3 linked regions of the Homo sapiens genome follow. The protein of the gene in region 2 interacts with the protein of the main gene of each other region in a biochemical or structural test. Each region holds a gene or a part of one and is shown on either strand. Other genes may lie near its edges.

Region 1 (5,650 bases), on a different chromosome or scaffold from region 2:
CAACCTTACCTTTCTTAGCTCCAAGGGAATTTGGTAAATGATACTCCTTCCTTTTTGAAATGTTCTCCTCTGTTCTTCCAGGATAAAACCCTCTTCTGGTTTTTGTCTTTCCCCTCTGGCCACCCTTCAGTCTCCTTTGTTGGTTCCTATTCTACTTGATCTCCAAATATTGAGTCCTTCAGGCTATCTTGAGCCCTCTTCACTCTGGACTCTTCCTGGGTGATGTCATGTTTGTTTATAAGTGCCATCTACATGACAATGTCTTGCAAATTTCTATCCCAGTCCAGACCTGTCCTTGGAGCTCTCAACTAGGTACCCAACAGCCTGCACAGCACCTTCAGTGGGATGTGCACCTCAGAAGCACCCAACTCAGAAGGGCCAGAGACTGACTCCCTCACCACCACCCCTTTCTCCCTCCCATCCTCACCTCACTCATGACATCACATCATACCCCGACACCCAGGGCTTCTGCCAGAAACCTGAGATTCACTCCTGGGTCTTCCTCTCACAGGCCCTTAGGCTTTGTTCCATCTCTGTCACTTCCCCACTGTCCTCCTAGTCACAGCTATCATTATCTCTGATCTAGGTAATTGCAAAAGCCTAACTGGGGCCGGGCACAGTGGCTCACGCCTGTAATCCCAGCACTTTGGGAGGCTGAGGTGGGTGGATCACCTGAGGTCAGGAGTTCGAGACCATCTTGGTCAACATGGTGAAACCTCATCTCTACTAAAAATACAAAAATTAGCTGGGCATGGTGGCGGGTGCCTGTAATCCCAGCTACTCAGGAGGCTGAGGCAGGAGAATGGCTTGACCCTGGGAGGCGGAGGTTGCAGTGAGCTGAGATTGCGCCATTGCACTCCAGCCTGGCTGACAAGAGCGAAACTCCATCTCAAAAAACAAACAAAAAAGCCTAACTGGTTTTCCACTTTTTAGTTTCCGTTTTCTATACAGGTGCCAAAATAACTTGTTAACAAAGCATGTACCCTGACTTACCCTTCGATGGTTTCTCATCCGTTCTAGAACAAATAACGCCCTGGCTGACCTGGCCCTGCCACTCTATCGAGCTTTATTTCATGCTCCTCTGATGATTCTACAAGGTACCAAGCTCTTTCTTGACTCAAGCCTTTGTGTCTGTCATTCTCTCTGCTTGAAAGCTGATTCCCTGGCTCTCAGCAGGTTGGAGTACTTTTTATCCAACAGCTCTGTTTACAGTCACCTCAAAGAACCCAGGTCCAACCACCTGATGCACAGCTGGTTCCCCTATTCTTCTCATTACTGCGCCCAGTTTTTGGTTTTGCCTTGTAGAATATACCAGTCTATTATTCACCTGTTTGTCTCTGCTTCTAGAATGTAAGCTGTATGAGGATGAGGGTGTCTTAGTCACAGCTTTATCCCAAGCCTAGCATGATGCCTGGCACATAACAGGCATTCCATTAGTATTTTGAGAGATCATCTAAGTTTGGCATCCTAATTTCACATGAGGAAAGAAACTCAACTAAGGGCCCATCATTTTCCTGCTTACTCAGATTGTTGCACTGAGGGCAATGTAGTAGTTAAAGGCACATATTCTGGTACCAGACTTCTTTGGTTCAAATCCCAGCTCCTCCAATGACTAGTTGTGATGCTGGGGAAATTACCACCCTTTGTCTGTTTCCTCACAGGTAAATGGGGATTATAGTGTCTATATCTAATAGGATTGTTACAAAGATTAAGTGAATTAATAGAAAGATGATACCTGGCATATGATAATTCTGCTCTTCATTATTATGTAAACTCAAAAAGTTTCTTCAAACCCCCAACCCCTTACTGTGCTTAGAACACAAGAAACAATGTTCTTTGAATGATATAAGTAATAATTTCCCACAACTTTTACCACTCAAGACAGAACCTATGTCTGGCCTATACAACTAGACTTTCTCAGATACTTCGAGGAGAATCAAGATCCGATCCTCGTGGCAAAACAAACAAACAAAACGAACAAGTCCTTCATGAGTGGACATCAATTTTGGTCATGCTGATCTTTTGGAGAGCATAGAGGATTCACCTGCTAAAACAGAGAATGCTATTTTCTCTGTCAAAAGATAACAAATAACAACATACTACTTTATTACCTGCATTGCCCCCAACAAGAGATTTTTGTAGCAATACATTAAGGTAGCAATAATAATTTTTAAAATCTTAAAATAATCAGTGGCCTACAAGGTTACTAAAAAGTGATTGAGAATATAGGAAAATACATTAAATGACCATTTCACATTTATTTTGAAAGCTATTCAGACATGAGACGGTTTTAAAAAGTGTTAGCATTAATGTTTTATTGTCACGCAGATGGCAACTGGGTTTATGTCTTCATATTTTATATTTTTGTAAATTAAAAAAATTACAAGTTTTAAATAGCCAATGGCTGGTTATATTTTCAGAAAACATGATTAGACTAATTCATTAATGGTGGCTTCAAGCTTTTCCTTATTGGCTCCAGAAAATTCACCCACCTGTTAAGAGAATATTGAATTGACATTAGACGTAGCACTGTAGCACTGTTTTATACATAAAATATGTATAAATATGTATTTATATATATACATATACATATGTATATATATACATATGTATAAATATGTATTCAGCATAGAATGAAGGAAGAATAGGGGTGGAGGGAAAAAGAAGTATAATCTTATTTAAAGTAAACTTCCCTGAATAACATACAGTTCATTTAAGTTATAAACAAAGAAAAAATATCAAGAGAAAAGTCAAAAGGCTCAAGTACAAATTTTCTTTTACACAATACTTAACAACAAATGAACTGCCCAAGTCTAAGAAATTCTATGTGCTTTATGATATAAATAGGACTAGTTCTAGGAAAGATTGATTTTCAGTTAGCTGTCACATTATGTACTTAAGCCAATGAATTTTGGCATATTTAAAAATTCTTAAAAGCAGAACTTGGTGATATGCCTCAATCTTTAAAGGGAACATCACTCCAGTGATTTATTCACTTATACTGGGTTTCCTATTGCCCAGTTAGAGTTTTAAAGGTCAGATGTACGTACCTTTTGTCCCTTCTTAAAAAACTGGAATGTTGGCATGCATTTGACTTCACACTCTGAAGCAACATCCTGGTAGGGAAAGTAGCAAAGGGAGAGGATTAAATACAAGACTGCGAGTACTGAGCTTTGACAGAAGTAATCCAAAACCAGAAACTTTTCCCTGTCATGTACCCCACATTTCCGCATGAGGACATTTTTCAGCATATGAAAATTAATATAATGAATATAATGGCATTACAAAAGCCAAACCGGTTATATTCTCAATGAAGAAGTTTTATTAATATTTACTTCCTTTGACGGGCACATTAACAGGCAGAATGTTCAGAATGTTACTAGCATCAGATACTCCAGCGATCCAATATGCTCTTTAATCCAATCAAATTTTCAACTATTTTAAGTATCATACAAAGAAGCAACAAAAAATTCTGCTACAATTGGACTCAGTATGATAATCTTAACTATTCCTCAGAACTAGTACCTCTTATTTCTTGCTCATAATTTTTCCAGTTTTATTATGAAGGCAGAGTACACAGAATGATTATATAAAGGCTAAAAAGTCTAAAAAAATAAAAATCAATTGTTCAAGAACAAAATAATAGTAATCTAAAGGAATAACCCCACACTGGGTTTACTGATTATTATTATTTTTGAGACAGGGTCTGGCTGTGTCACCCAGGCTGGATGGAATGCAGGGGCATAGTCTCAGCTCACTGCAATCTCCACTTCCCAGACTCAAGCCATCCTCCCTCCTCAGCCTCCCCAGTAGCTGGGACTACAGGCACACGCCACCACACCTGGCTAATTTTGTGTGTGTGTGTGTATATATATACACACACACACACACTATATATATATATATATATATATATATATATATATATTTTTTTTTTTTTTTTTTTATAGGGACAAGGTCTCTCCATGTTGCCCAGGCTGGTCTCAAACTCATGAGCTCAAGTGATCCACCTTCCTCGGGCTCCCAAAGTGCTAGGATTACAGGTGTGAGCCACCACACTCAGCCTCCTGCTTATTTTTAATTAAAAACTGATTTGTGAGGCCAAGGCCGGTGGGTCACCTGAGGTCAGGAGTTCGAGACTAGCCTGGCTAACACGGAGAAACCCCATCTCTACTAAAAATACAAAAATTAGCCAGGTGTGGTGGCACACATCTGTCATCCCAGCTACTCAGGAGGTTGAGACAGGACAATTGCTTGAACCTGGGAGGCGGAGGTTGCAGTGAGCTGAGATCATGCCACTGTATTCCAGCCTGGGCGACAGAATGAGACTATCTCGGGAGGAAAAATAAAAAGACTTTGTGAATTCTCAAACCTTGCTGCAGTATCAGAATTACCTGAGGGGTACTACAAGTTTCCCCATCAACCCCATCTTAAACCATTACAGTTAAAGTCGGGCTTCAGGTGACTCTGATGCTCTAACCTTTGAAAGCCATCCTACTAAGAAAATCGACAAATTCCTAACATCGCAAATTGGGCTAGTTGATCCGTATTTTCTCCTCTCCTAGAAGTGGCTGTTACCACAGCTAAAGATTTTTCTACAGCTCAAAGGTAATTGAAGTAACACACATTCCTCAACTGTGGAATGCTAAATGAGAACTCTTATAATACCCCATGCTCAACACATTGTTCATGCTATAAGAGGGCAAGGTTTGGAGGACAATACCACGAAACTGGTTTGGTTTGGAGCCCAATAGAGATTGAAAATGTCAGCCAGGCACTCAAAAGAGGACTGGGAAAGAAATATAGAACCACTCAGCACCTAAGCAGCAAAAGCTACACAGGACAGCAAGCGAGCAGGCAGGACTGTTGATAACCAAATCACGGAAACCAACGGAGAATTCTCAAGGGGAAGAAAGGCCAGCTACAAACACTATGACGACCTCTAGGATGGTGGGTGGCACTACTGTTGAGGAGTTCTTTCTAGGTAATCTTTACTTTTTCTTTTAATGCTGGACACCTGCTGAGCATGAAAGTACAGGTTCCAGTAAGAGGCACAAGGACAGTAATGGCTGGAATAAAAATGGTGAATGTTTATTGAATGCATACTATTGAAAACTCACTCCAAGTAAGGGTCAGAGGGAGGTTACCATTTATAAAATAAGTATCATAACCCTGTTGGCTGTCAGAGAAATAAGGTTGGTCTATCATTTTCAAAAGGGCTACTACTCATACTTTTCTATCAATCTATGGAGGCAAAGTTAAAGTTCCTCAGTTTGTCAGAGGGTCACTTCAAGGTTTTAAAAGACACTTTCAGGCCAGGCACGGTAGCTCATGCCTCTAATCCCAGCACTTTGGGAGGCCAAGACGGGTGGATCACTTGAGGTGAGGAGTTCGAGACCAGCCTGGCCAACATGGCAAAATGCTGTCTCTACTAAAAAGTTGAAATTTAGCCTGGTGTGGTAGCGGCTGCCTGTAGTCCCAGCTACTCAGGAGGCTGAGGCAGAAGAATCGCTTGAACCCGGGAGGTGGAGGTTGCAGTGAGCAGAGATGGTACCACTGCACTCCAGCCTGGGTGACAGAGTGAGACTCTGTCTCAAAAAAAAAAAAAAAAAAGATACATTCAGGGTGATCAGGGTGCACCAAGCAGACA
Region 2 (9,484 bases):
ATCTGAATAGTGTAAAGTAGTATAAAAATAATCTTTTTATAAGTTTCAAAAATATGTTTATTGGCCATTTGTGATTCCATTTTTGTGAATAACCTGTTCATATCCTATGCATTTTTTAATCTCTTTTTCTTAAAGATATTTTGAGGAGTTATTTATATATACTGAATACATATCCTATATTGGTTACATGCATTGTTCCCTGTGATTTCTTTGTTGATGGTATCTTTTATATTTATTCATATATTTATCATTTCCAGTGCTATATGCTTTTTCCTATAGATCCATTTGGTTTTATTTCCCTTCAGCCTAAAGACTTTAACATTTCTTGTAGTGAAGTTCTGCTGGCAACAAATTATCTCAGTTTTGATGTATCTAGAATTGTCTTTACTTCACCCCCATATTTTAAAGACATTATCAGTGGATATAGAGTTCTTGCTTGATTGGGTTTTTTTCTTTCAGCACTTTAATGTTATTCCATTATCTTTTGGCTTCCTTCAGCACTCACTCTTTCCCCTGATGTATCTTCTTTCTTAGGCTGCATTTATGACCTTTTCTTGTATTTCTGTTTTTCACCAATTTTACTATGATGTGCCAAGAGATAATTTTCTTTGATATTTATGCTCCTTGGGTTTTGCTGAGCTTCCTAGATCTGTGAGCTGTTTTTTATTTGTTTGTTTGTTTGAACAGATTTGGATAATATTTGACCACTAATTCTTCAACTATTATCCCTGCAACAGTATATCTCTCCTCTCCTGGGACTCTAATTAAAAGTATCTGGACCACTCAAGGCTGGGCACGGTGGCTCACACCTGTAATCCCAGCACTTCAGGAGGCCGAGGCAGGTGGATCACTTGAGGTCAGGAGTTTGACACCAGCCTGGACAACATGGGGAAACCCGGACTCAACTAAAAATACAAAAAGTAGCTGGGCATGGTGGGGCATGCCTGTAATCCCAGCTACTTGGGAGGTTGAGGCACGAGAATCGCTTGAACCCCGGAGGCAGAGGTTGCAGTGAGGTGAGATTGCACCACTGAACTCCAGCCTGGGCAACAGAGCAAGATTCGTCTCAAAAAAAAAAAAAAAAGTATTTAGACCACTAAATGCCACAGGTCATTGGAATTATTAATGACTTCATCTCTTTCTTTCCTCTGCTTCAATTTCAATGATTTCTAATAATCTGTTTTGAAGTTTATTGCTCTTTTATCGTATTGTGTCCTATCTGCTGTTAATCTGATTTGATGACATTTCAACTTCAGATATTGTACTTTTCAGTTCTAGAACTCCCATTTGGTTATTTCCAGTTTCCAAATATCTCCTATAATTCCTCATATTTTCACCCATTATGTTCATCTTTTCAAGTAGATTCTTTGATATAATTATCATTGTTATTTTTATGTCCTTGTCTGGTAATTCTAAACTCTGTTTTATCTATGGGTTTATTTCTATGAATAATTTTTTTCTTAATTATGAATCACACTTTCCTATTTCTTCACCACTTTAGTAGTTGAGAGTTTTTCTTTCTTTTTTTTCTTTTTTTCTTTTTTTTAATAAGACAAGGTATTTTTATATTGTCCAGGCAGGTCTTGAACTCCTAGGCTCAAGCCATCTTCGCACCTCAGCCTCCTGAGTAGCTGGAACAATGGGAACATGCCACCACACCCAGGTTGCTTAGTAATTTTTATGGTGTATTAGACATTTTGGATGATAAGCTGTAGAGAGTTTGGATTTGTTCTCCTCCTCTTAAGAGTATGTAGTTTTTTAATAAAAGGTAAATAAATTATTGGTGGTTCACCTTGTTCACACAAAGGCTTATCCCACTCAATGTCCAGGTCCTCCGGCAGCCTCAAACTCACTCTCAGGCCAATAAGACTGTGATTTCCTGCTAGAGTTCTATCTGTCCTGCTCCCTGCAGACCAGGGAATGTCTTGAGGGAAAAGCCATTTAAATGTGGAGTTTATCCTATGCGGTGCCCTTCATCCAAGGATGAAAACCTTTCCAGTTTCTAGCTACTTTTAATCACTCTTCAGTGCTTTCCAACTTTTTTCCAACATTTATAATTGTTATCAACAGGAAGATAAGCACAATAGAATCTACTCTGCTGTTTCCAAAAGCTACTACTTTGATGAGCAGAAGCCAATTTTCATGTAGACCATTTTCCCAGTCTTATCTTTTATGGTATATGGCGTTTTTAAGCCTTGTTTAAGAAATCTTTGCCCCAGTCAGGGCAACATGGTGAAACCCTCTCTCTACCAAAAATACAAACAATTAGCCAGGCGTGGTGGCACACACCTGTGGTCCCAGCTACTCAGGAGGCTGAGGTGGGAAGATCACTTGAGCTCAGGAGGTGGAGGTGGCAGTGGGCCGAGATTGCACCACTACACTACAGCCTGAGTGACGGAGCAAGACCTTGTCTCAAAAAAAAAAGAAAGAAATCTTTGCTTATCCAATAGTCATACATAATTTGTACACTTTATTCTAAAAATATTTTTCTAAAGTATTTTTTCATATTTTGGTATTTAACTCACTTAGATTTCATTTTTTTGTGCATGGCTTAAAATGGGGATAGAACTTTATTTTATTTTTCCAAGCAGATAAAGAAATTTTCCCAGTATCATTACTACAGATTCCATCCTTTCCTTTACAGCTCATGAAGCTGATTCTGCCATAAATCTAGACTCATGTATATCTTAGTCTGTTCCAGGCTGTCTCTTGTATTCCAGTGCTTTGTTTGTCTATGCCTATAGCCATACTGCAATATCTTAATCATTACAGCTTTATAATGAGTCTTGTTAACTGGTGGAGCAAGTCCTTCCACCTTGTGCTTTTCCAGAATTGCTTTGCCTATTCTCAGTCCTTTATTCTTTCAAATAAATTTTGGAATTGGTTTGTCAAATCACATGAAAACCCCTGCTGGGGGGAATTAAAATCTTTAAAATATCAAGCCTTCTCATCTACAAACTCGGTATATTTTTTCCTTTCATTCAGGTCTTTTAAACTGTCTTTATATAAATTTTTCTACAAAATTATATTTTATTATTTATATTACTTATTTAAAATATCTTTTTAAAATTATATTTCTTAAATTATCTTTTCATCTATTTATCCCAATTTACTATACTATGTTAAATGAATTTCATCAAATTATTTACTAAAGTTATAAACTCTAAGATTGGCCCGGTGGCTCACGCCTGTAATCCCAGCACTTGAGGAGGCAGAGGCAGTTGGATCACCTGAGGTCAGGAATTCAAGACCAGCCTGGCCAACAGGGCAAAACCCGTCTCTCCTAAAAATGTAAAAATTAGTGGGCGTGGTGGCGGGCACCTGTAATCCCAGTTACTGGAGAGGCTGAGGCAGGAGAATCGCTTGAACCTGGGAGGCAGAGGTTGCAGTGAGCTAAGATCACATGACTGCACTCCAGCCTGGGCAACAGAACAAGACTCCATCTCAAAAATAAAATAAAATAAAATAAAATCTAAGGTTTAGTTCATAATACACAATCTTATGGATTATAATAATACTTTAACACTCTCATTTGCAAATACTTTTTTATGCCATGGATTTACTAAGTAAGTAGCTCATTTATATACTATTTACTTACCAAGAAGCTCCATGGTCTCTGCTTTCAGTGTCCGTGAAATTAGAGTCCAAAAACATATCTTTGTAGATTCGACCAACTAGGCAATACATATCTGAAGCAACTTGTCCTTCGCTTTGCACCATGGGAATCATAATATCAAGAGCTTTTGCTCTGTCACCAGGGAGATTTCTCCTAAGGCAGAAAACATTGTTGTTTCAATATACATTACAGAAGCAATATAGATCAATTCTTTTTTAAAAACCCTATTTAACATGTTGATTCATATTAGAGAAATTTGCCAGGACAGAAACAATTAGATTTTGAGAGTCCTCTGTAAACCTCTGTCCTAAGCCTAATTTTTTGTTTTATCCCATTGTATGTCTACTAGGTCTAACAAGGATTTCTTTTGAGTTTCTGTGTTAATAATGGTGATGGATTTGTACTTACTCATCCACAATCCTTCCAATTTCCCTGCAGCCTATATGCAGGTTCAAGTTGGTGAAACGAGATTAGAGTTGTAGTCTGTGTCTTTGAATAGGGTAGAGTAAATAAAGCCAAGTAGGGACAAAACCCTGACCTTAGGTTTCAATGGCTTTTGCTCCAAAACTTAGCAAACTCATTCACAGATGATACCAAAAATCAAATCAAACCCAAGAACTGCTTGATTTCTACGTGTGACTAACTGATTATCTAAGGAAGTTGCTTTATGTAGCATGCTTTAAAATAGTATGTGTAGACAGTTCACAAAACCAGATAAAAATTCTATAAGAGTTATCATTCCTTAGACCTTGAAAATATTATGCTAAGTGAAAGAGGTCAGTCACAAGGGACCACATACTGTATGATTCCATTTATATGAAATGTCCAGAATAGGCAAATCTGTAAAGACTGAAAGTAGATTCGTGGTTGCCTAGAGTTGGGGGATTTGGGAGGGAAATGGAAGGGGGGCTGCTAATGGGTACAGGGTTTCCTTGTGGAGTGATGAAAATGTTTTAAAATTTATTGTTTTGATGAAATATATTTAGTTTGTTTGTTTGGAGACAGAGTCTTGCTCTGTTGCCCAGGCTGGAGGGCAGTGGCATGATCTTGGCTCACTGCAACTTCTGCCTCCCAGGTTCAAGCGATTCTCCTGCCTCAGCCTCCCGAGTAGCCGGAACTACAGGTGCACACTGCCACACCTGGCTAATTTTTTTGTATTTTAGTAGAGACGGGGTTTCACCGTGTTGCCCAGGCTGCTCTCGAACTCCTGAGCTCAGGCAATCCGACCACCTTGGCCTCTCAAAGTGCTAGGATTGCAGGAGTGAGCCACCACGCCCAGCCTGTGAAATATGTTTCAATAAAGCTATTATAAAAAAGGTATCATTTCTATTCTCAATTACTACTTCAAATCTTCTGTCCAAGAAATTCCTTTTTATCCTTGGTAATAACTATCTAACACTATGTTCACCTAGACATAACCATCCTTACTCTAGTGAAAACTTTTGTGTGAATGACCATCTGGTGTTGAGTGTATTTGCTTAAAGATAACATCATATTCATGTAACTTTTACAATTCTAAAAAATATGAATAGCAAATACAAACTTTGACAGAGCAGAAAACCTGTAAGAATTTAAATATACCAACAGTGTGCGACTTTTTTTTTACTGAAAAATAAATCAGAAAAAAATGAGAATGCATGCTTCCTATATTTCATGGGGCTGAAGCAGATATGCTAATATTACATTTTAATAGGGACTTCTTGCAATGCTGCAGTGAACACATTCTCTGTAAAGAATTGCAGGTTACACAATAATATGTTAACGCATTCTGGAAGGGAACTTTTTCTTCTTACCTATTCAGTGCAAATGCATAATGAAACTTCACATGGTGATGGGAGGCCAAATCAAAGGTTGGCAGTTTTTCTAAAGTCTCTACCAGCTTCACAATAGAATCATAGTCCTTTCAAATTAGATGAGAATAGCACAGAATTAAACCATTAGGAGAAAATTCTCACAATAACGTGTCTTTTGACAACCAGATATCTGAATTCAAGAAACACATTAAAAAGACACTAGAATCCACAGAACACTTTGAAGAACCTAGAATAAACAGTTTTTGTTGTTTTTCTTCTAAAAGGTTTAGATCGTATATATAAAAACATTAGAAACATACAGTTACCATGTTGAACAAAAACTAAAAAAGCAAAAGAAACAAAAACACCAAGCATGATAGTGCTCTACTGTCTAAATATGGGTGATTTATTTCCCCATAGAGCCAGATTCCCGGTATGCAGTGTTCTAACAATTTCAGGGAAATAAAAATGTCAAGGACATGAGGCAATGGGTTGAACTTCTGTTACAAGTAGCAACACAGTTTCATGTCACATGAGTAAGCACTCTAGCCACAGGATCCTATGTGCCACAGCCCTCCATGGATGTGAGTCTGTCTTGAGCACATGAAGCCTTTACACAGACCTGAAAGGCTAGGAATGGAAAGGAGAAACCAGATGTCATTTAAATTTTACTATTAAAACCTAAGAGCAAATCCCTAACTTGGAGAGGATTTTATTCCACTTACCCTATTTTTAAAATTTTAAGACATGTCAATAAAAATGATATAACCTGTTAGTGTGTTTTACATTACATATTTTTAAAGTTATTTCTGTAGGTAATCAATTACATATTTTTTCCTTCAGGCGAGTTAGATTCAGCACTATCAATTTCAAGCAATACAATTTCAAGGGATAAAAGGTATGTCCAGAAAGCTCTAAAAATGTCTGCTATTTGCCAAAACAAAGCTTTCACTGACAGGTGTGCCTGAGGCTAACAGTAGAATAGACTGTGTCCACAGGTTCGCTGTGCCAGCAGATTTTTCTTTTTGTTCTTTTGGAGGAAAAAGTCAGGCCTTTACCATACAAGTCTTTCACAATCACTGATGGTTAACTCACATGAGTCTTTTTCATTCATCATAAAATTATAGGATGGAAAGCTTAAGAGAGTCAATAAAAAATTACGTGTAGTAACATGAACTGCTTACCAGCAAACTGAAATTTGAGGTTAATACTCCCTTATCCCTCCAACATGCTACACAACAAAGATTTCACTTTAAACATCTTCTCACCTGGATATCTCTGTAGGAAAGTAACAGATTTATGACAATATCTGCTGTCAAGACTTCGATATTATCTACTCGCTGCCGAATTCTTGCCAACTCAGCTGCCAATTCTTTACCAGTGTATAAATTACGAGCTTTCCTGATGTCATTGAGTATAGATTCCCGGAAGTACTGGCTGGTAAAAACACACACATTTCAAAGAGTTTGACATTAGAAACAATTTCAATGAAAAGCAATAATTTTAATAAAGACATGAATGATATTGCAGCATTAGCTATAAAGCATTTGTAGTTTTCAGTTCATTCAGATGCCTAAATAAATATCTTACATATCTGGCATTATTAAGAAATTTAGAAGCCAATGTATTTCTTTTATTACTCTGCCTTCAGAAAGAATTAAAGGTAAAGGTACTCCATATTAATAAATTTTCCTGCAAAAAACCACTTAAAATGCCAAAACTTTGTTTTCCATTTTACTGTTTCCAGTACAAATTGTTCTAAATAAATTAGATGTACCTATGATTTTTTGTTTGTTTGTTGTTTTTGTTTTTGAGACAGAGTCTCACTCTGTTGCCCAGACTAGAGTATACTGGCATGATCTTGGCTCACTGCAACCTCCATCTCCTGGGTTCAAGCAATTCTCTTGCCTCAGCCTTGTGAGTAGCTGGGATTACAGGTGTGCACCACCACACCTGGCTAATTTTTGTATTTTTGGTAGAGACAGGGTTTCGGCATGTTGGCCAGGCTGGTCTCGAACTCCTGATCTCAAGTGATCTGCCCACCTCGGCCTCCCAAAATGCTGGGATTACAGGCATGAGCCACGGCACTGGCCGTGATGTACCTATGATTTGAACATAATATAACCTTAACTTCCTGACTCAGCCTATCATTTATTAACATAAATAATTGTTCTTCACTGAAAGAACAATTAGAGTTAAGAGTTAATTAAAGTTGAATTGTTCTTGCCCTTACACTAGAAGTCCCTGGACATTTATCCTGGTATTGTTTCTGTACTTGCTTTGTATATATTTTTAGTTCTACCATCACTATAAAGCGGTTAGTAGACTTTTTAATTTTTTGCTGATTTCAAGTTGCTGTTCTGTGAATAAAATGTATTATGTGGCATCTATTTTATCTACTTGGAGGATAATAAACATTTTCCCCCTAGTTCTTAGCTGTATACTGATATCTCAGGAGCACCTGATATCATGCACAAATAAAGATGTAGAATAACACTTTATTGTCATCACCAAATGGCATTATTAATTAAACTTTACCTAGAACTTGCTTGTGCCACCTTCAAAAGTTGAATAAAACGATCCACAAGAGGTAAGCAGATGGGTCCAAGAAGCAGCTCGAAGTTCGGTTGCATGAGCTCTGTCAACCCCTTCATGAAGCTGCTGTCACAGCAGTAGACTTTGTTATGTGGAGTTATCATGTAAGGAACAAAGGTGTAGTTCCCAGTGCACATCTGCGGAGAGAGGAGGCATCGGCAAGTGGGGAGCTGGCCTGGAGACACGGCACAGATGGAATCCCACGTCTTACTCATTTTAAATAATTCCAAATGCAAAGGGAAATAGAAAAGCCTCATTATTTATTTATGACCTACGACAATGAAAATTTCCCCAATTCCTTTCACTGCATACTTCAAATAATTAGGACTTACAGATGATACCAAAAAAAGAGTGGAACAGTTTCTATCCATCAATTTAATATTTATTCACCATCTTTCAAGGCTAGGGCACTAAGTTATTGCTGTTGGAAAAAGTAGTTTAAAGCATGGCCTTCAGCTTTCAGGGAACTTATAATTTAGTCACAGGGCGCAGCATACACATATGAAAATGCTACAAGCTCACATTTGAAGGGCTTCCTACATGTAAGGTGATGCCGCAAGTAGATCCCGCTCAAATCCACCCCCCGGGAGGCTGCTCTCTCTCTGTCTCCCCACTACTAAAACTACAGGCCCAGAAGTTACCCTTGATGCTTCCATTCCCTTCCCCTTCCACATCCTATCGAAGTCCCATCTGTCCTGCCTCCAAAATATAATGTCATATTTGTCCATTTCCCTCCATCTTCTCGGCCAACACTTTAGTCCATGCACCAATGGACCTGGCCTGAGCCACTGCCATCAGCTTTAACTGGTCCCCCTGCTTCCACTCTTGTCCTCTAATTTACTCTCCACTCTGCCATCAGAGTGATCTTTCAACACTGTCCCTCAGATCACTTCCCACAGCTGCTTAAAGCCCCATCTCTTGCTCTTGGGAGAAAGAAGAAATTGCAATGCAACGTACAAGGGCCTGACTACGCAGATCCTGCCCCTCTCTAACCTCAGCCCTGCCACTCTCCCCTCGCCCACTACAGCCTGGGCTCACTGACCTTCTCTTGGTTCCTGGATGATGCCCAAGCGAGGATAAACTGGTGCAAACAAAAGCAGAGCAGGGATGAAAGTGGAAAGTGAGTTGGATACCCTGAGTAAGCAAATCTGACTGGAGCTCGAAGCTCAGGGAAGGGAATTAAATGCAAAGTTAAGGATGTTAGACTGTACATTCTGGACAATGCAGAATCATAGAAGGATCCACAGCAGGAAAGAAAACACAATCAGCTGAGTGTGATGGCTCACGCCTGTAATCCCAGCACTTTGGGAAGCCAAGGCGGGCAGATTGCTTGAAGCCAGGAGTTCAAGATCAGCCTGGCCAATATGGTGAAACCCCGTCTCTACCAAAAATACAAAAATTATCCAGGTGGGGTGGTGCACGCCCTTAATCCCAGCTACTCAGGAGGCTGAGGTGCGAGAATCACTTGTAGTGAGCCGAG
Region 3 (9,452 bases), on a different chromosome or scaffold from region 2:
CCACATGGCTAATCACTGGAAGAGTAAAGTCAAATGCATTTCTGCCTATTTCTACCCAGCATGATGTCTTAAACATAACAATAGATCAAAAATGTATTATTTGAGCCGGGAACAGTGGCACTGGCTGTAATCCCAGCTACACAGGAGGATGTTTGAGCCCAAGAGTTGAGGCCAGACTGGGCCACATAGAAGACCCTGAATGAAAAAAGCAAACAAACAAACAAAAACCTTTGTTGAATTGATCTAAACAAACTCCTTATCCAAGTCCTCTTTTTAGGTATATGCAGAGTTTGTGATTTTTTTTTTTCAAATGGCAAAGGTGTTTCGGGTACAGGAAGGGGTAAATAAACTGTGAAGACTGCCTCGCAAGGTTTACAAATATCACAAAAAGGTTATCTCTACATTTACTTCAAACTAATTTCCATACTCTGAACTATTCTGTTCCCACTGATTCTTCAGATTCTAGCCCTACGCTTACAGCTATCTCCTCTCATCCCATTTGAAATTGGAGGAGGGAGAATAAAGGAAGGGAATAAATAACTTGTCACTCAACAACCAGACCATCTATTTCCGCAGCTTCGACATGGGATCATGAAAAACAACTGAGGCATAGGTATAGCTGTTCTGCTTTGGCTGGAGAGAAAGCCGAGAAAGAATTCATTGGTTTAGGCCGGGTGCGGTGGCTCATGCTTGTAAGCCCAGAACTTTGGGAGGCCGAGGCGGGCGAATCATGAGGTCAGGAGTTCAACACCAGCCTGGCCAACACAGTGAAGCCCCATCTCTACTAAAAATACAAAAAGTAGCTGGGTGTGGTGGTGGGCGCCTGTAATCCCAGCTACTTGGGAGGCTGAGGCAGGAGAATCACTTGAACCCGGGAGGCGGAGGTTGCAGTGAGCTGAGATAGCACCACTGTACTCCAGCCTGGGTGACAGAGCTATACGCCATCTCAGAAAAAAACAAAAAAAAAAAGAATTCATTGCTTTAAAAGGAAATTCATTTCCATCCCCATCTACCTCCTCTGCCACAAAAACAGGCAATTCCAGTTTCCTCCACTCTGTCCAGTACAAGAGGAAAACACTGGAGATGTGGGTTCATTCATCATTTCAAGGAAATTGTTACATTTACATAGAAACAACCAGGAAGAAAAAAAGTCACTAAGCCAAAAAGGGGCTGCAAAATCCCCACACTTAGGTATGCTGCCACACTGGCCACGTTCTTGTTAGTTTTAATACAATTTAACTTAGATGTGTAAGGAAACACACAAGGTTTGAGTCGGCTTAGTTTCTGTGTGATACAACCTACAGAACAGCAAATGGAAGCAATATTTGTTACCTACATTTTAACATAACATTCCTGTATATCCAGACCAGTAACTATCAGTGGGCCAATTGTAATCAGCCTCCTTCAACCAATGGGCAGTTTCTATTTGGAACTCAACCTTAAGAGTCAAAATGAGTCAGACTCTGTACTCTGTGATCAAAAGACATATAAAGGGACATGTCAAAAAGAACCTATAAATAGCTAGACACAGGTCAGCCCTTCTTAATTACCATACTTGGCCCTGGTATGCCCAAATCTATCCAAATTCCTACAGAATACACTCGTTTTTCATTCTTCGACCATGTCTTTGGTGTAATGGATTTCATACCTTTATTTTGGAGTGACGTCTCAAGTGGAGTCGCCAGGAGCTCAGATTCTGAGGTCAGACAGACCTTGGCTAAAACCTCTGCTCTGCCACTATCGGTTTGGTAACTGAGGCAAGTTCTTAACCTCTCCGGCCTCAGTTTGCTGATCTACAAAATGGGATATCACCTCACTGATCCATAGTGAGAGTAAATGATAGAATTCACATTCATCACTAAGCACAGTATCTGGAGCACAGAAAGAATCACAGCAGTGATACCATCTGGGATGGTAGAAATTAGCACTTCTTTGTACGTGACTTAAATTTACATCATTCTGGATGTGGTGAACAAATCTGGGCTCATTCTACCAAAGCTCCTCTGTCTACATGTAGCTTTCACCTCCCTTCATTTTCAGACCCTCTATCAAAACCTTCTCTCCTAAATATACCCAATATCCACGATGTAAGCGACTCTGTGAGCACAAAGAATATTCGTCCTCAAAAGAAAATTGCCCACCCGGGGTTAGGGGGTTAATGTAAGAAAACAGCTCTAAACTTTGCAGGAGATGATAACTGGAAACCTCTCTGGTCCCATGCAGGGAGGCTTTCACGTTGACACAAAAGAAATGATGGAACCTCTGAGCTGGGTCATGATGATAACCAACAAGCCAGGCAATGGTGGTAGCAGGAGAGTTATTTTTGATTTCTTACGTCGGTGCAAAAGTAATTGTGGTTTTTGCCATGAAAAGTGATGATAAAAAACAATATTACTTTTGCACCAACCTAATACTTTCTAAAGAAATGTGGGATCAATAAGGGGAGGATGAAGAGTCTCAGGGAAGAATTAATAAGCAGCTTCTCATCGAAGGGAAGAAAAAAAGGAAAGAAATATAAAGCAAACAGGAAGAACACAACTAAGGGGAAAAGACCCCAGGACGGGCAAAAGGAGACGGGTAACTTAGTTCAGAGGAAATGAGCAATGACCTACAATTCTTATAACTAGGAGAGACACCACTCAGACGTTTCCTGTGGGCTGGGCCCAAGAGGTCTCTGGCTGAGCAGCAGAGCAGTAGTTATCCAGGTTAACAACTTCCAATTAAAGCCAGAGAGGAATGTTTCTGGGAGCTCTGTCATGAAGAGACCCCAGTATTCGATGGAATAAAGTCATAAAGGAAAGGGTCAACAAACATTTTCTGCAAGGGACCAGATAGCAAATATTTTTGGCTTTGTGGGACATAGGGGCTCTGGCGCAACTACTCAACTCGACAGCTGTCGAGCAAAGAGCAGCCATGGAAAACATATAAATGAATGACCATAGCTGTGTTCCAATAAAACTTTGTTTGTCGATGCTGAATTTGAATTTCGTATCATTTTCATGTGTCATGAAACATTGATTTTGATTTTTTTTCAATCATTTAAAAATGGGAAAACCATCTTCGCTCACGGGCTATACTTAAAAACAGCTGAGGCTTGGCCGGGCACGATGGCTCACGCCTGTAATCCCAGCACTTTGGGAGGCCGAGGAGGACGGATCACAAGGTCAAGAGATCGAGATCATCCTGGCCAACATGGTGAAACCCCGTCTCTACTAAAAATACAAAAAATTAGCTGGGCGTGGTGGTGCACACCTGTAATCCCAGCTACTCGGGAGGCTGAGGCAGGAGGATCGCTTGAACCCAGGAGGTGGCGATTGCAGTGAGCCAAGATCGCGCCATTGCACTCCCAGTTGGGCAACAAGAGCGCAACTCCATCTCAAACAAACAAACAAACAAACAAACAAAAACAACAGCTGAAGCTAGATTTGGCCCAGGAGCTGCAGTTTGCTGCACAGGCCCACCAGTCAGACATCCATCCTGCCTCTGCCACTGACTCGCTATCCAGCCATGGGCAAATTGGTTAACAACAATTGATTTCCTCACTCGTAAATTAAGGATAATAACACCAACTTTGTCCATAGTGTTTATGGGACATCCTAAAGCATACTATATGAAAAGTAACTGGCTTAGGGTAAGTGATGATGACAACAGCCTTGGGAGTGGTACAGGGAGGGGTTGTGATCAGCAGCTCCACCTGGGGCTAATGGTCTGTCCAAAGAAGACTAATCTCAAGAATCTGACTTAAGAAGGGATGTACAGACCAGAAAGTAAAACAGATGACAGGGATGCTGCAAATGCTTATTTAATGCTTCAACTCAGACTGGAGTTGACTAAATTACGATGATTTGGCCAGGCGTGGTGGCTCATACCTGTAATCCCAGTGCTTCGGGAGGCCGAGGTGGGTGGATCACCTGAGGTCAGGAGTTTGAGACCAGCCTGGCCAACATGATGAATCCCTGTCTCTACTAAAAATACAAAAATTAGCCTGGTATGGTGGCAGGCACCTGTAATCCCAGCTACTCGGGAGGCTGAGGCAGGAGAATTGCTTGAAACTGGGAATCAGAGGTTTCAGTGAGCTGAGGTTGCACCACTGCACTCCAGTCTGGGTGACAGAGCAAGACCCCATCTCAAAAAAAAAAAAAAAAAAAAAAAAATTACGATGATTTCTGATAGACTTCATTGTATGGGGATTATAACCTGAATATCCTCCTCAACTCAGAAAGAGGGAGATTATGGACTACATACTGAACCGCATGGGCCAACTCAGGAAGACCATCAAAGGAGACAGAGTGGGGTACAAGCCAGGGAGGAAGGGGCTGGGCAGAGGCAGTGGAGGTGGTCAAGGAGGAAGTGAAGAATCATTTCACTGGGAGGTGATCCTTGCGAAGTTCCCTGTTTTGTTAGAGGGCAGCCAGCTGTTAAAAACACTGTCTCTGGGCCGGGCGTGGTGGCTCACACCTGTAATCCCAGCACTTTGGGAGGCCGAGGCGGGTGGATCACGAGGTCAGGAGATCGAGACCATCCTGGCTAACACGGTGAAATCCCATCTCTACTAAAAATACAAAAAAAATTAGCCGGGCATGGTGGCGGCAGGCACCTGTAATCCCAGCTACTCCGGAGGCTGAGGCAGGAGAATGGCGTGAACCCAGGAGGCGGAGGTTGCAGTAAGCTGAGATCGCACCACTGCACTCCAGCCTGGGTGACAGAGCGAGACTCTGTCTCAAAAAAAAAAAACAAAAAACAACAACAAAAAAAGGATTGTCTCTGACAATCCTTCAGAAGCCTCATAGACTTAAAAACCAGCTCCTAAAACCAGCACAGGATGCAGAAATCACTTCAATTCTATTGGATGGGATTCTTCGGACAATTCATCTTCTCATATTTTTTAAAAAGAAAGTTAGCAGAGAATTGTGCAACCTTTAAATCTGTTCAGAAGGCTTAGGTAGGAGAAATGACACTTCGCCAGCCATTATAAGTTGCTTTTCATGCTGTTCTTGCAACTTCCAAATAATTAAGCAAATACATAATGGGAATATCAGTGCAAACAAAGAAGAAGCACAAGAAGAAAATTGCATTGTAATTTAATTACCCGAAATCTTTCATAAAACTTAGGAGCAAATGAGAGCTTATCCCTACTGATGAAAAATACTTTCATTGTCAGACATTTTTTGAGCACCTATTATTTATAAGGACAATGCTATAAGAGTCAGAGATGTAAAGATATATAAGAAAAGGTTTAGTTACCCAGCAAGGGCTTTCAAACAAGACAGTCCATAAAAGGCAAACAACCATTACAGTGGTTAAAACTTGCAGCTGTACTATGTAGGCACTGGGAATCAAAATGAGAGCATTTGCAAAATATCCTTTGGCAGAGAACTGGTAAGAAACCCCACCACCATGATTCACATGTCACCATTTCTTGGACACAGAAAAATAACCCCTGCTCATTATACCATCAGCTCCCCCTTGCCAGACTGCTCCCAACAAAAACAAGCAAAGCTAAAAATGTGAAATATACTAAAGATTCTGAAGAAAAAAAAATTTTATAAATGTGGATTATTAGTGTTCACGTGTGGTTTAGTGAAAAGAACTTACGGACAGAGAATCTGTAGATCTGACTTCTCCCTGTGACTCCACTCTACTGTCTTCAGGAAAGTCACTCACTTCCAAGGCCTCAGTTAGCTTATGTGTAAAATGAAGTGATTGGACTATAAAACTTTCATAGCTCTAAATTCTATCACTTAATATCAGGATGCATAAATAGGCGCATTTATTAAGGCTATGTTAAGGATATGTTAAATCTGATTGACTTATATGACTTGTGAGGTCATTAAAATTGATTCTTAACAAGAATCTTAAAGATTCTAGACTTAATTATTTTAACAAATGTAGGAAATTTAAGTCAACCACCTTTTGTGATTAGGCATTGCACAGGAAGCTAAAAAAAATTAGATTAAATTTCTCTGCAACAATGCATATAACACAACCAGGTGCTATGTAAGAATTATTTATAAACCTAAAGAAAAACTAATTTTGCCTGAAAAGATAACTGAAAATGCAGGAATGCCCAAAAGTAAGCTATTTCTCAGACTGGAATTTAATCAGATCACTACATTTTTCTTATTATTTTCATATAGGTCTGGATAGCTATAGACTATATAAATAAAATGAGTTTATAAAATATGTGATAGCAGCTTAAGACATTAGGTTAAAATTAAAATTAGAACTCATCAAGGAATTAAATTGTTTAGATACACAGAACCCAACTATCAATCCAGGATTACCTAACCTCTACAATATTGCTATTTTCTGGCTAACTTTGAAAATAATTTGATCCCCAAATTAATTAATTTTTTTTTTTTTTTGAGATGAAGTCTGGCTCTGTCACCCAGGCTACAGTGCAGTGGCACAATCTCTGCTCATTGCAACCTCCACCTCCCAGGTTCAAGCGATTCTCCCAAGAAGCTGGGATTACAGGTGTGCACCACCACGCCTGACTAATTTTTGTATTTTTAGTGGAGGCAGGGTTTCACTATGTTGGCCAGGCTGGTCTTGAACTCCTGACCTCAGGTGATCCACTTGCCTCGGCCTCCCAAAGTGGGGTTACAGGCATGAGCCACCATGCCTGGCCACCCAAATTAAAATTTTAAGGATATATTTCATGAGAAAAAAAGAAATTTGGGCACATGAAACACAAATGTCAAAAAAACTGAAAAATGCAACTGCCTTATCACTAATAATATTAGAGTAGAATATTAATAGCTTTCATCAAACTGCCAAAGATTTTTTCAAATTGTTATACCCAGGATGAAGAAAGGTACCATCTTCCTGAAGAGCAATTTACTTGGCAATATGTACCATTATGCTTGAAAGGACAGAATGGGCACGTCTAAATATTATTGGTAGAAATGAGAATTAGTGTTACCTCTATGAAGGGCAATTTAGCAATATATCTATACATGCCCTTTGACCCAGGACTTCCACCTCTAGGAATCATCCTAAAGAAATAATTGGGCAAATGTATAAAGATGTATGTTCCAGGTATTCCTTACAGTACTGTGTATAGCTGTGCAAAAAAATGGAAACTGTTTGAAAACTCAATATGACATTAAGTAAATGGCTACATTCTTACAAATTAAAATTCACGGTTGTTAAAAAATAGGTAACCTTATGTGTACTACTACAGAAAGATATCCAAGATATATGGTAGAGTATAAAAAAGCAAGTTACAAAATACAATATATAGTGTGTAAAATAACATGTACATACAAATATGGAGATAGTACCCAAAAAACTAACAGTAATTAGCTCTGGGTGGTATGACTTTGAGTGAGTTTTATATTCTTATTGTGAATTTATCTTTGGTTTGAATTTTTTGATTAGCATATGTCATTTTTTTTTTGCAATAATAAAAAGCTATTTTCAGAAGGAAGAAAAGAGAATGGAGAGTGAAGAAGAACTGGACATTCAAAGCCTGTGGTTTTGCTCCCTGGAATTTAATCTAAGGGCATAGTATGCATGATAATGTAGGAACTGGTATGATCATCACGGAAATATTCACAATAGTGAAAGTTAATAAACATTAAGATTCTATTTAAATAAATACAATGGAAGAGGATACTATGAATGTAGAAATATATAAACTTGGGAATATTTTGCCATATATTGGTAAGTGAAACAAGAGGGAACGAAATAGACTTAGTTTTACACACATTTTGGATGCTTCATACACATAGATAGAAAAAAAAAGTCCAAGAGAATAAATGCCAAAGTGTAGACTGCAGTAACTAGTCATTCTTATTTTTCCTTTTCTATGAAATGTTTCTATAATGAACAAGGGTTATTTATGAAATTTCTTTTAAGTTTTAAAAATATTCCTTGTAGATCTTTCAGATTTTAAAATACTGGGGAGTCATTAAAGTAACACTAATCTGAAAAACAAAGACAAGAGAATCTCAACTCTTTTCTCCAACATTAAATTTACCAACCAGAGACCCCTGAAGCCCCCTACAGTTAACAGGCCGCATGCTCTAAAGAACTGAATGCAATGCTAATACAAAGCAAGCTCAGGAAACCCAAGCTACCTATTCTGATTTTGTGTCCTGAGATGTACGGGGTTATAAAACATACTGGCTCAGATTACAGGCTAAGCATGACAAGTCCGTCTGGTACAACCTAACAAAGGAATTTATAGAGAACAAGAAATTTACACATTTCATTTCCCAAGGGTGGAATGAATTACAGAAGCAAAGAACCCCAGTAGAGTTAAGACCTTTCCTACCACTCTGCTATATGCTTCTGAATTGTGCCTCATAGGCATTTCTTACATGATTTACTTATTGCTCTCTAAAACTAAAATAAACTAATATTTTTTAAAGGTGAATAGGAGGAGAAGTGAGAAAAGTGTATTTTAACAGGGTCAAACTTTTTGTGTATTTTCAGGTGAACTGGGGGATGCCAGATCTCCCTACCTCCCTCTTTCTCTCCCTCCCTCCGGAGATCATTATGGCTGATAACAATAGTTTTTCTCTCCCGGGTAGTGTAGATGACACATTTTTCCTGTAGCTTGTCTTCCTGTAGTGTGCAGGAATTCCTGCACTTTCTGGGTGCCCTTCCTGTTAACTTACATTTCAGATTTCCTCAAAAGGCATTCTACTGCTTTAATATTTGAAAAATGTCAACTCAACCCCAGACAGCTAATATAAACAAGCTGAAAAGCATACCACCTAAAGTTACAACTGTGGAAAACAAAATTTCTTTTTAAGAAATTCTTTCTCGGAATCTCACTGTTGGTAAGGCTGTAGAGCAGTAACCCAGTCCTTCCAGCTTCCAGAGAGTCTGTAATTCCTTTGCCTCTGCTGTGCCTTAAATTAGAGGTCTGTTAAACCGAATTATAGTGATCTAGAAAGTTCGTAAAGGTCCTTGAATTGAACATATTGTTAAATTCTTCAATACTATGAGATTGTATCCACTTTTCACTTTTCCTCCCATTTCTTGGGTTAGAATATTAAAAAAGAAGTTTGGTACTGCAAAAAGTATTTTGGCCATTTGAGAATAGCGTAGCTGAATAAGGCCAATTCCACATTTAAAGTCCAGGCCAAGGCGGCTGGCTCTTTTGCCATTTCTAAAATGATCACCCACTTCTTTCTACCAATAATTTTCCTTTCGGACAAGAACCCCATGTTCATTCCAGATGTACTTTCCAAGCAGAATCCAATTAAGAAAACTCATCTGGGTAAATGGGAATTGATTTGAAGGACCACCAGTACCTGATCCATTGTAAACACATCCATAGGGAAGAGTGCAGTGCTAATATCTCCTTTGGCTTCTCAACTCAAAAACTGGCTCTACTAAGAGGGAGCCACGTTCATAGTGAGCCCAAAAATATGCAAAAAGGAGCCTGATTTAGTTTAGACCCTAAAGTCCAAAGATAAGATCACAGTAAACACCAC

Evidence for each region. Proteins that work in one complex are often made in the same cells at the same time.
Region 1: the proteins of MAP3K5 (region 2) and TXN form a complex in vitro, tested with the Homo sapiens proteins (3 studies listed by BioGRID).
Region 3: of the proteins of MAP3K5 (region 2) and MAP2K6, one has a biochemical effect on the other in vitro, tested with the Homo sapiens proteins (8 studies listed by BioGRID, with this or other methods).

Annotation. Positions count from the first base shown.
Region 1 is NC_000009.12:110,241,728-110,247,377, forward strand, and holds the end of TXN (thioredoxin), read right to left. Parts: intron 3,117-5,650; coding exon 3,051-3,116; intron 2,493-3,050; coding exon 2,430-2,492; 3' UTR 2,083-2,429; downstream 1-2,082. UniProt on the Homo sapiens protein: Participates in various redox reactions through the reversible oxidation of its active center dithiol to a disulfide and catalyzes dithiol-disulfide exchange reactions.
Region 2 is NC_000006.12:136,690,542-136,700,025, forward strand, and holds part of MAP3K5 (mitogen-activated protein kinase kinase kinase 5), read right to left. Parts: intron 8,142-9,484; coding exon 7,948-8,141; intron 6,847-7,947; coding exon 6,678-6,846; intron 5,517-6,677; coding exon 5,410-5,516; intron 3,770-5,409; coding exon 3,599-3,769; intron 1-3,598. UniProt on the Homo sapiens protein: Serine/threonine kinase which acts as an essential component of the MAP kinase signal transduction pathway. Plays an important role in the cascades of cellular responses evoked by changes in the environment.
Region 3 is NC_000017.11:69,416,827-69,426,278, reverse strand, and holds part of MAP2K6 (dual specificity mitogen-activated protein kinase kinase 6), read right to left. Parts: intron 1-9,452. UniProt on the Homo sapiens protein: Dual specificity protein kinase which acts as an essential component of the MAP kinase signal transduction pathway.